Linked DNA regions of Homo sapiens: region 2 is linked to region 1. The links come from fine-mapping of genetic effects on gene expression. A gene starts in region 1. The other region holds a variant in brackets. All regions are shown on one strand. Distances are from middle to middle.

Region 1 (5,389 bases):
TTGTGCATATATAAATACAGCTCTGTTCCTGAAGGCAGCCAGAAGAAACATCCAGGAGAGGATCATCTTGAAATGTCATTTCAAGCCTATAGATCACATCATAGTCGTTATCAGTAGGCAGAATTAGATTTCGCGATCAGCAGCTATCTTCATCTGGCTTGTCTGACTACAACTCTCCGTTCTTTCAATAGTGTGCAAGAAAAAGCATCAGTCATAGGATACTAGTTCAGACACTATCCCAGCAAAACTTACCAATGGTTTTAAATTGTTAAAACAATTTAAATAATTGTTTTATTACACAAATGATTTTTATAATCTTCCCAGTCATAACTTGAGCTTTGCTTACCAGTAGGACAAGAAAGTATGAAGCAAAGGCATTGCCACCGCTCAACTCCAACTACATAAGTTTCTAGATTTAAAAAAATTTTGTCAAATTTTTATCAGTGCTCTTAACCTAATTTTCTTCCTCTTTAGCTACATAAAGATTTCAGGTAATAATAGTTGACTCTAGAGTATTAGGGAACTGCTTGCAAATTTGCTCCAACCATATTCTTCTATTCTTCATATAGACTTTTCGTTTTCTTTCTCATTGCTGTCAAAAATTTTTAACCACCCTCATGTATGCACTATTGTAGCAAATATATTCCCTGCATTATATTTTACTCAGTGATTCACAAGGTCACATGTAGACTTTATGCACAGGGATACTATGTATGTGTGTGGCATGGATCGCCTATAACAAATTGGGCACTCCAACAATGCCAAAAAATATTAAGTAAGCCTTTATACCTGGAGATCCCCGTGATGAGTAGAAAATTAGCCAAGACTATTCCAATGACATTCTTGACGTGTTTTATTTTTGGTAAAAGCATGAAGATTTGGTGGATTAGAGAAAGAGTAGCACAATTTAAAACTGAAATTATAGGATAAGAGTAGTCCTTGGTTACCCATTTTCTAAAGACAGAGGATTTCAGAATTACTTTGTTTTTCACAATTGTTATTTCACAAATTTTGAAGCTTCTTCTCCTATGGAATATATGCTAGCCTATGGACGTATCCAGATTAAAATCTTACATTCTCTTTTAGGTAATTTCTGTTTTGTCAATAATTTTTCTTGGAGAAAAATGTACTAATACAGTGTTTTCTCCAATGATCCTCCAACTAAGTCTAACATTTTTGTGTAATATATGCTTTCTGTTTGAGGGATTTCCACCCCCCCCCACCCCCCACTGCCCCACCACCACTGTAAAAATCTGGTCAATGCAAGAGGACCTGGTTAGGTACCCCAACATTTTTAACATTAATTATTTCTGATTTATTTTCTAGAAAAGACCTTCAGTATTCTGCTTGCATTCATGTTTATTTGGTCATTTGCTTTACAATGGACTGGTCCTTGCTGACCTGTTTTTAAAAGAGTTGGTTATCTGCAATTTGAGCAACCAGTTGAAGTTGTTTTATAAAAGTTTTAAGCCTTCATTTTCTGCCAGTGAACACAATGCTGCTTGGTTTCTAAGTATAGAGCCATCTATGTAAAAATCGCCACTTTAAAATCACAAGAAAGAGACTGTTCAGCAAGTGGAGGAGATTATTGCAGCAGGAAGAAACTGAGGGGACCCTCCATGTGGCACCCACTGAAGAGTATTTGAATGTTTATCATATCATCAGTGTGGCCTAGGCTGTTGCCTAGCAGTTATCTAGAGACCTACTTCACGTTTTATTTTAATTTAATAAGGTAAATCGAAGACTTTTGTTTGCTTGCTTGCTTGTTTAGTTCACAGATTAGGAATAAATCTGGACTGGAACTTGTAACAATTAACTAGGGCATTTGAAAGTCCAAGCCAGCCTCTTTATGAATTACATTTTGAAAAGACAAGCTGCTATCTCATTGGTAACTTTCAGGAGACCACTCTTGGAATTAAATTTAGAAAACATTTATCAGTTATGTTGCCCAAAATCACAATGGACAGGGCACTTTCTGCATAGCTAATACACAAGCGGCATCCGCCTGCAAATCACAGAGCACCCCTACTATAGCATAACTAGGACAGGAGTCAGGGAGACGAACCGATTTAACATTTCATGGAGAATTCAAAGCTATGCTTCTCTAACTTTCCTCCCCATTTCTTCCCAGCTTCCCTTCCCCCGCACCACACACCCAGAAGCCACTCAATTTGCCAACCATGTCCAGTTTAACTTACTGCAGTGTGATGCAGGCGAAAGCTGAGCGCATCTCTGAAGCGAGAGCCACTGCTTTTCCGGAGAGGAACTGGGACTAGCCAGTTCTCAGGATCCTTTCCAATTCACACGCTCCCGGCACAGTAAGAAGGCTCCCACACAGCTCGGCTTCCCCAGAGGAGTGGAGCTTCAAGAACTCTGCTCACAGCATCCTCCTCCCCACTGCCACCCCCTTCCAGAACACCCGGCCCATTGGAACTAGTGTCTGAAAGATGGAAATCTACTTCCAGGCAGCAACACAGGCTGCCTGCAGTTCACCCGTCTCTGATCATTTGCAACTAAAAAACAGCGGAGGCTGAAAGACGTAGGTTTCCGGAGCCTGAAAGTCATCTTTGGCGTCCCCCTTCCCCACCTCTCACTCCTCCCACTTCATCCCCGCTCCTCTATCGCGTCCACCCCCAGTCCTCCAGACTCCCACTCAAGCTAGCTATCACAAATGATTATTTTATCATCCAAACCAGTAAGCAGCTGAAGGAAACAATTTGTCAGAGATGAAATACCTGTTGTCCATGACTAACGCTCTTCTTCAGTCTCTCTTAGTCCTTGATTTATGTCAAGACGCGTTGATATTGGAAGTCTGTGCAGTGTGTGTGTGTGTGTGTGTGTGTGTGTGTGTGTGTGTGTGTTGAGGAGGAGGCGATTTGCGCGGCTGCAAGCACCAGCCCTGCCTATCTCTGGCTGCCGCTTCTCCAGCTGCTATTGCTACTCTTGCTGATGGAGCTCAGGGGAAAATGAGACAGGGAGACAAGGCTATACAGCTGTTTAACTGCTGGTCCAGTTATAAGACAGGGGAGGAGACGGTGCAGGTGAGAGGCTGTTGAGACAGTGAGCTGGATTCACTGCAATTACTACCACTCACTATACATCTCAGGGAGGAAATATGATACCCGTCTCCCCTCTCCCTTCTACAACTGTAGTCCTTGGTGGGTCATTGTTCAGCAACCATCTGCCGAAGCCACTTCTACCAATTGTAGCAGCTGCAGACGCTCTTGCTGCATTCCGGCTTGGTAACCTCGGAGCAGGTGACTGGAGGATGGATGAAGTAGAAAGGCAGTTAAATATTGGGAGAAACTCTATGTATGTGTAACCAATCAGGGCACAGATAAAAATAACAATTTTGAGGCACGTGTGTAAAATAGTGTATTAGGGTAAGAAAAATGTAAGTAAGTCAATAATCAAGATTTTTGTGGACTGTGTACAAAACCAGACAGTTATTAAGCAGTGTGCTTACCAGCTTATACACGGGGTATCTTGACATAGAAGTCCCGTGGTTGCTCTTAACTTATCTATATAATATTCTCAATGATTTCAATGCATTAACATCTCTCTGTCAGCTACAGACTCTGGTAAAACCAACTTGATTCTGTCTTCTATTAACTTTCATTTGCTCTCCTTATTGGCTGCTCTCATTAATCTCCAACATATTCTCATAAAAAATATGACATTCGGCAGAACTTAGAAATGGAAGACGTTCTCAAATCCCCCAAAGAATAGAATACTTCTTAATTACTAGTAACATTTGCTCTAGTAATAGTCTGTCTTCACTTTCTTGTTCTGTAGATTGAGTAATCATGAACAACCCCTCCTAAATACACACACACACACACACATCACTTAATTGAATAGTACTTTTAATCCACTTTCAGCCTCCAGTTGTCTGAGCTAAAAATAAACTTAATTCCTTTTGATTTTATTTGTAATGCACGCCTTTAATTATTTCTGCCTCTGAGTACTTTTCATATTGGCCATATTTTTTCCCAGTTGTTAGGGCTTGTGTAATCAGGGTTAATCAGGGTTAAATTAAACAGAGGGGGAACACGGAAGAAAGAAAATATAAGAAAAGACCCAGAAGGAAGAAAATAACCCAAAAGGATTAAATAATACATCTTTCCCTGATGTGTTTATACTGCCTTTAGCTAAACAAAGACCAGTTAATGAGCAAAGCATTTATCAATTATCCAACAAATATCAATTTGCCAAAGCCAGCCTAACTTCAATTTTAACAGATTTTATCAGAGGCTAATATTTTGTTTTAAAAATCATATAATACCTTAAATGCGAATAGCATCCAGAATTTTTTAACGTCAAAATTCTAATTAAACATGATGCCAAATAGCTATTTTTCTCTTCATTTGTTGTCTGTCCATTAAATAATTATTGTATCACACAATTAATATTATTAACAGTCTGAAGAGTACCTTTTTTATACTTGTGTACACTGCAGTGTAAGGAAGTAGGCACAAGAAGTCTCTAGCACATAGAAATACATTTTGATACAAAAGGCCAACTTTATCCACAAATGGTATGATTTTAAACTTGCCCTGCTCAACAAATTCATCCCTTACTATAACTAGCAGGATCTTGCCATTTGTAGTTTAGCAGGGTTTTCTTTTTGATCTTTTTGGTTATTGTTTTTTGTTTTACCTTTACTCCCATTTTGAAATTAAATCATATTTAGGAAGAGCACTAACACTCTAAACATTATTGAGAGACATAATTTATTAGCTATCTTCATTATAAATAAGAAGGAGTCTAAACATCTGGTCTGGGTAGAGCTGGAAGAACTACAAGATGTTAAAATAATTGGTAATGAGTATTTAACATCCATCTTGTTAGTTTTTTTTTTTTTTTTTTTAACAGCTTATAGCATTACTAAGATTCACTTTAAGAAAAAACCACTCTCTTAAAACTACAAGGTTTGGTAATGGAGGAAGAAAATTTTCAGTTAAGGATTGGTGATTGAATCTTATTCCTGACTCATAACTCAAGATTTTCCATTTTGTGGTAAAACTTACAAATCACTCCCTTACAACACTGTGCCCATTTCTCCAAGATGCTTCTCTGCTCCCATCACTAGATTTTCAGAAACTTCATGGGAATCTGTTTATCATTCATCAATCTAAAAAATAAGAGAAAAATGAACTTGCTCTATACTCATTCCTCAACATAATCATCAATTTGTGAAAATATATAGAAACGAATCATATTAATTTTCATCTACATCTCCTTCATCATCAAAACAAGTATTCCCAAACTAAATTTTGTAATTTAATGATAGTCATTTACTGAAGAGAACCCAAAAGTTTGCAAACTGTACAACAGCAAAAGCAAGCCATGTTTGCTTAGTTCATTCATGCGTCTCTAGCATCTACCA
Region 2 (5,389 bases), 290 kb after region 1:
CTGTGAATAATATAAGTTGATAAACATTTTATGCAAATTATATGTTTAGCATAAGTTTTATTCAAAAGCAAATCAGTACTTAGCTTACTAAATATGGAGTTATTAATTTGGTGGGGAGGGGCTCATGGCATCCTGATGATTTTATGCATCTTGCAGCCTATTACGTAGGCCAAGCCAAGGTTTCCTAGTGTGCCGTGTGGCTGCCAGGTTCCATTTTTAGATGATCTCCAATACCCCCTGTCTAGAGAGAATTAGCCCCCTTTAGGCTCCGATTGTCTCAGCAGACATCATTTTACCAGCAAGTTAAAATGCATGCTGTGTACTGCCTCAGAAGGGGATGTGTTAGTTGCATTTGTCTAATGTCTCTGAAAGGGATGTGTTGGTTGGATTTGCCTGAATAGGATAAGGGGAGGAGAGAAACCATTATGTATGGACATCTTTTACATTTAACTTTGTGTTACAGGGAGAGCTCCCTTCAGTGAGCACACATACCTCACACTACTACAAGAGACCCTGGAAGAAGCCAGAAGTGTAAAATAGGGATCTACCAAACCTAACCCCCTGTATATTTTAACACTAAAGCAGTCATTGTCTGGGATAGATACCTGAGGTTCCTTGCCTCATGCCAGGGAAATTAAGGACATGGAAACACAAAAGAAGTGAGTTGAAGAGCAGAGGTTTAATAGGAGCAAGAAAGAGAAAAGAGAATAGCTTTTTTCCTTGCAGGGAGAGATGGGTGCCCCAGTGGGTCTTCCGTGCCCCTGGTAAAGTGCACAGGGTTGTACAGATTGGCTTGAGGAGGTAGTGCCTGATTTACATAGGGCCCAAAGATTGGTTGGACCAGGTGTGACGCTTACATAGTACTGCGAAGAAGCTTGTCACTCCACCCTAATCTTTTTATTATGCAAATGGGTTTTGTACTTGGCTGGCGCCATGTTGTCTGCTCCTTACCGTACACGTGGTTAGCAAAGAAAAGGGAACATGGAACCACCGTTTTGAACATGCCTAGTCCCCAGGTAGCCCCTTTCCTATTGGCACAACTGCTGGCATTTACCTGTGCAAGCTTCTAGCTTGCCTTTCCATGACTGCAGCTTGATTTTACAGACTGCTTTTTGTTAGAAAAGAAAATGATTTAGGAGCTGCTTTTCTTTAAAAGGAAAACCTTACCGAGGACTTCCTTATCCTCATAATCTGCCCAAATAATGCCTTGTTAACTCCTGTATCATTACCATTATTAATAATCTTCCATTAAAAATGAAAAATCAGACAAATGCAAACAGGACCTATGGTGACAATATTTTTCGACCACATCTCCATTCCCCACTCTACCTCCATTCACTCTCCAGCTTGCTGATGCTTACATAGTATTTACATTTTCTGGCTCAGTTCCTCCCCTTCCCTCCTCTCTTTTCTTTTCTTTCCCCCTCCTCTCCCCTCCCCTCTCCTCTCCTTTTTGACAGAGTCTCGCTCTGTCACCGGGCTGGAATGCAGTGGTGTGATCTCGGCTCACTGCAACCTCTGCCTCCCGGGTTCGAGCGATTCTTCTGTCTCAGCCTCCAGAGTAGCTGGTATTACAGGCACCACCACCACATCTGGATAATTTTTATACTTTTTTTTTTTAGTAGAGAAGGGGTTTCACCATATTGATCAGGCTGGTCTCGAACTCCTGACCTCATGTGATCCACCCAACTTGGCCTCCCAAAGTGTTGGGATTACAGGTGTGAGCCACCACGCCCGGCTGGCTCCGTTTCTTTTAAAATGTATGCAAAATGATCTCATGTGAAACAGAAAACTTTGGTGGCATGTCTAAATATCCATGCTTACTTAATCAGTATTACCTCTCTTAATTAACATCTTTGCTATAGAAACAATATTCTCTCACACTGCACAACTTTTCTGCTTATTTCTAAAACTTGACAGGAGGGACAAGAGAAGTTCTCCTTCATTCTAGTTTGGCTGTAGCTTCTGCAGCTTATCATTGCCAGAGGTTTGAAAAATATAGAACCTTTGGCACGTCCTCAGTCTTACTAAATTCAGTGTTCCCAACAGTCATTTCCGTTTCTAAAAAGATCCACAGGTAATCCTGATGCATAAAGCAAAGACTGTGTCTTCCTGGTTTCTGTAATGTAAATCAAGACAAGTT[G/A]TAATTTGGGGCTTACTGCTGTTAAAATGAAGAAAGAACATGCCCAAGAAATGAAGTTATTATGATTCATGGATATTGGGGTGCCTGGGTGGTTGAAAATGTTTACATAAATAGTGCTAGAGTTGTAGAATGTCAAAAAGAAGGCACAATCTGCAAGAGATAAACATCAATGCTTAATTTGCTAATTTTTTCTAATTGTGTCTTGGGGAGGAAGGAATGTAAGTTGTTAGGAAGAACGGATGGCAGAACTGGAGTGAGATTTGAAAAAAATGTTCTAATAATGAATAGAACGTTTTTTGTTGTTGTTTTTTTTTTCCACTGAGGCAGGCTTAAGATAGAGCCAAGCTGCTTCCATCATGTTGCTGAAAATTATAACATAAAAAATGTTTTAAGATTCTGAAAGTCAAACTAGTCTGTTTTTTGCTATTTTATCTTGGGTTTCTGGAGTCTATGACTATGAGAACATGGGCGAGACATTAAAAAGGAAGCTTATTTTCTATTGTTCTCCCGAATAAATCCTATTACTGTACACTATAATGTATACCATATGTTAAAGAATTCCAGTCAATGATTCTATTGCAGATTCCACACTGAGGGATTAAATTATATAATCACTAGTAAAAATGAAATTTGAAAATATTTAATAAACTATCATGTAAGCTGTTAATGTTAAATACAAGGGTTTATATACTTTAGCAACTAATTGAACATCTGATTCATGATTAGGAATGCACATATTGCTAAATATCAGGACTCTGAGACGATTAGATTCAGTTTAACAAAAATAATTTGATGGAATGAGATGATATGGAAGTAAATGGCATAACTAATAGAGCTAAGGTAATGAGCAAGTCTGGAGGAAACTGACAAGTCCTGTAGCCTCTTTCAGACATATGGCAATCCTATAAGTAAACTTACGATGTTGCCATTCTTAGAAGGTTTAGAAGTTCTGGACTCATTCACCCTGTCAATTAATCTTATGACTAAAATACTTATCCTGAGAACTTTTTTTGTATCTTGGAGCATCAAATTGAATTGAAAATACTCTGAACTTAAACTCCTCAGCTTATACTTTTAAAGGCTTGCCTTATTCAGATGTCTGACATCGTGGAATGGGGAAACATCATGGACTTCAATGTTCGACTTCAGAGAGTTTAAATTTTATTTTGGTCACTTATTACATTTCATGGGCCTGTACAAGTTATTTAACCTCAGACTCAAAATTATCTGCTATAAAGTAGTGTTAACAGCTCCTAACAGGATTGTAGAGACTAAATAAAATAATACTAATAGAGGACTACTCATTAAACAAATGCTCCTTTCCTCTATCTTTTCTTATGGTAGATTAGGAAAAGTAAATATCTTCATATGATTTGCAAAGTCAGTTTGCATCTCTCCGATAGAAGTGGTGAGTAATTGACGAGTCCTATTTTTAGGGCTTTCCCGAGAGAGAGAGAGAGAGAGAGAGAGAGAGAGAGAGAGAGAGAGAGAGAGAGAGAGAGAGACAGAGACAGAGAGAGAGTGTGTTAAAGTCCTTCCAGTAAGCATACATTACATGGTATCACTCAAGATCAATTTACAACATTAATAATAGCTGTATGTTCTGTCATCATGTATTAGTGCTCTGCAAAAGAAAACTGGACTGGAAAATTAGCAGGGTTAAAGAATAAAGTGAAGAATAAAGTGCCTTGGTTAATAATGCACAGAGGCCCTAGAAATGTAATCGCCCAATGGGTTCATTGCCTGCTGCCAGGACAGAGCCGATTTATCAAGACAGGGAAATTGTAATAGAGAAAGAGTTCAATTCATGCAGAGCCAGCTGAATAGGAGACTGGAGTTTTATTATTACTCAAATCAGTCTCCCTGAAAATTCGGAGACTGGGTTTTTTAAGGATAATTTGGTGGGTAGGGGGCCAGGGAATGGAGAGTGCTCACTGATCAGGTCAGAGATAAAAATCAAAGAGCCTTGAAGCTATTCTTGGCTGAGTCAGTTCTTGGGTGGGGGCCACAAGACCAGATGAGTCAGTTTATCCATCTGGGTGGTGCCAGCTGATCCATGGAGTGCAGGAGCTGAAAAATATCTCCAACACCAATCTGAGGTTTCACAATAATGATGTTATCCCTAGGAGCAACTGGGGAGAGTTCGAATCTTGTAGCCTCTAGCTGTATGACTCCTAAGCCTATTTTCTAATCTTGTGGCTAATTTGTTAGTCCCACAAAGGCAGCCTTGTCCCCAGGCAAGAAGGGGGTTTGTTTTAAGAAAGTGCCGTTATCATTTTTGTTTCAAAGGCAAACTATAAACTAAGTTCCTACCAAAGTTAGCTCAGCCTGTGCCCAGGAATAAACAAGGACACCTTGGAGGTTAGAAGCAAGATGGAGTCTGTTAGGTCAGATTTCTCATTGTCTTAATTTTTTCACTGTTATAATTTTTGTATAGGAGGTGTCTGGAACATTACCTGTCTGGTAACCACTCCCACTTTCATTGGCACAAATTTGTATCTTGAAAATATCTGTATTTCTAATAGAAAACCATTCACAATCACAGTGAGGTAAACCCAAGAGAGAAGAGAGAGAATAGACAGAATTCAATTTACTCAAAGAAAACTGAACTTCACCACAAAAGGATCTTTTCTCATTTGGGGGAATTATTTATTAACATTTCTATTATTAAACTCATTTTTAGGCTAATCCTATAAATTCACATATATTAAAGCATATACACATATTTATGTATCATTCCTTGGGGAATCATTAAGCTCTTCTGACATACTAAACAACTATGTAAAGATTAGCAAAAAGTCTCTTTTCTTTGCCATTACTGAAGAATGTGTTTTACCCACTGAAAAGTCTCTAGAATGTAGAATCAGGGTCTTGAGAATGTTTATGCCTTAAATTTCCTAATTTCAAGCCAGCAGAGGGCTCCCTACTGTAACATGATTCTGTATATGTATACAAAATTCTGTGAAAATTGTTGTTAAGGGACAAAAGCAGGATTCAATATATGTTATAGGCTTACGTATTGTCTATAACTATGTGTTAAATTAAGAAGTATAAAAAGAATGAAGCAAAGCCAAACCCACTTCTGATACTTGAGATAGAATGTGTTGCTTTTTCATCATGCAAAATTTAATCTTCCTCTGCTGTTCCAGTTTGAAAACTAAATATGCTTCAATTCTGTATCCTCAGTTCACATAGACACCTGCAGTCTGATTCTCTTAATACTCTATATTTTTGTCCATTCAAAGA

Direction of the effects. Alleles are on the strand shown, and positions count from the first base shown. SD is a standard deviation of normalised expression in the study named.
As copies of A replace G in region 2, the expression in iPS cells of the gene that starts at base 2,358 in region 1 goes down (small effect, 0.29 SD a copy in HipSci).

The links. PIP is the estimated chance that this variant, and not a neighbour inherited with it, causes the effect. A credible set is the group of variants that fine-mapping cannot tell apart.
Region 2: its variant is the best candidate, but not a certain one, in a credible set for the expression of DGKB in iPS cells (HipSci, PIP 0.67).

The regions. Positions count from the first base shown.
Region 1 is chr7:14,900,394-14,905,782 of GRCh38, forward strand. It overlaps DGKB (diacylglycerol kinase beta), which reads right to left and starts at 2,358. Exons shown (of 26, transcript NM_001350709.2): 1 at 2,199-2,358.
Region 2 is chr7:15,194,609-15,199,997 of GRCh38, forward strand. It overlaps a transcript of AGMO not described here. Among named protein-coding and RNA genes, the nearest start is that of DGKB, 290 kb to the left of the region's middle. The variant G/A (reference allele first, on the strand shown) is at 2,144.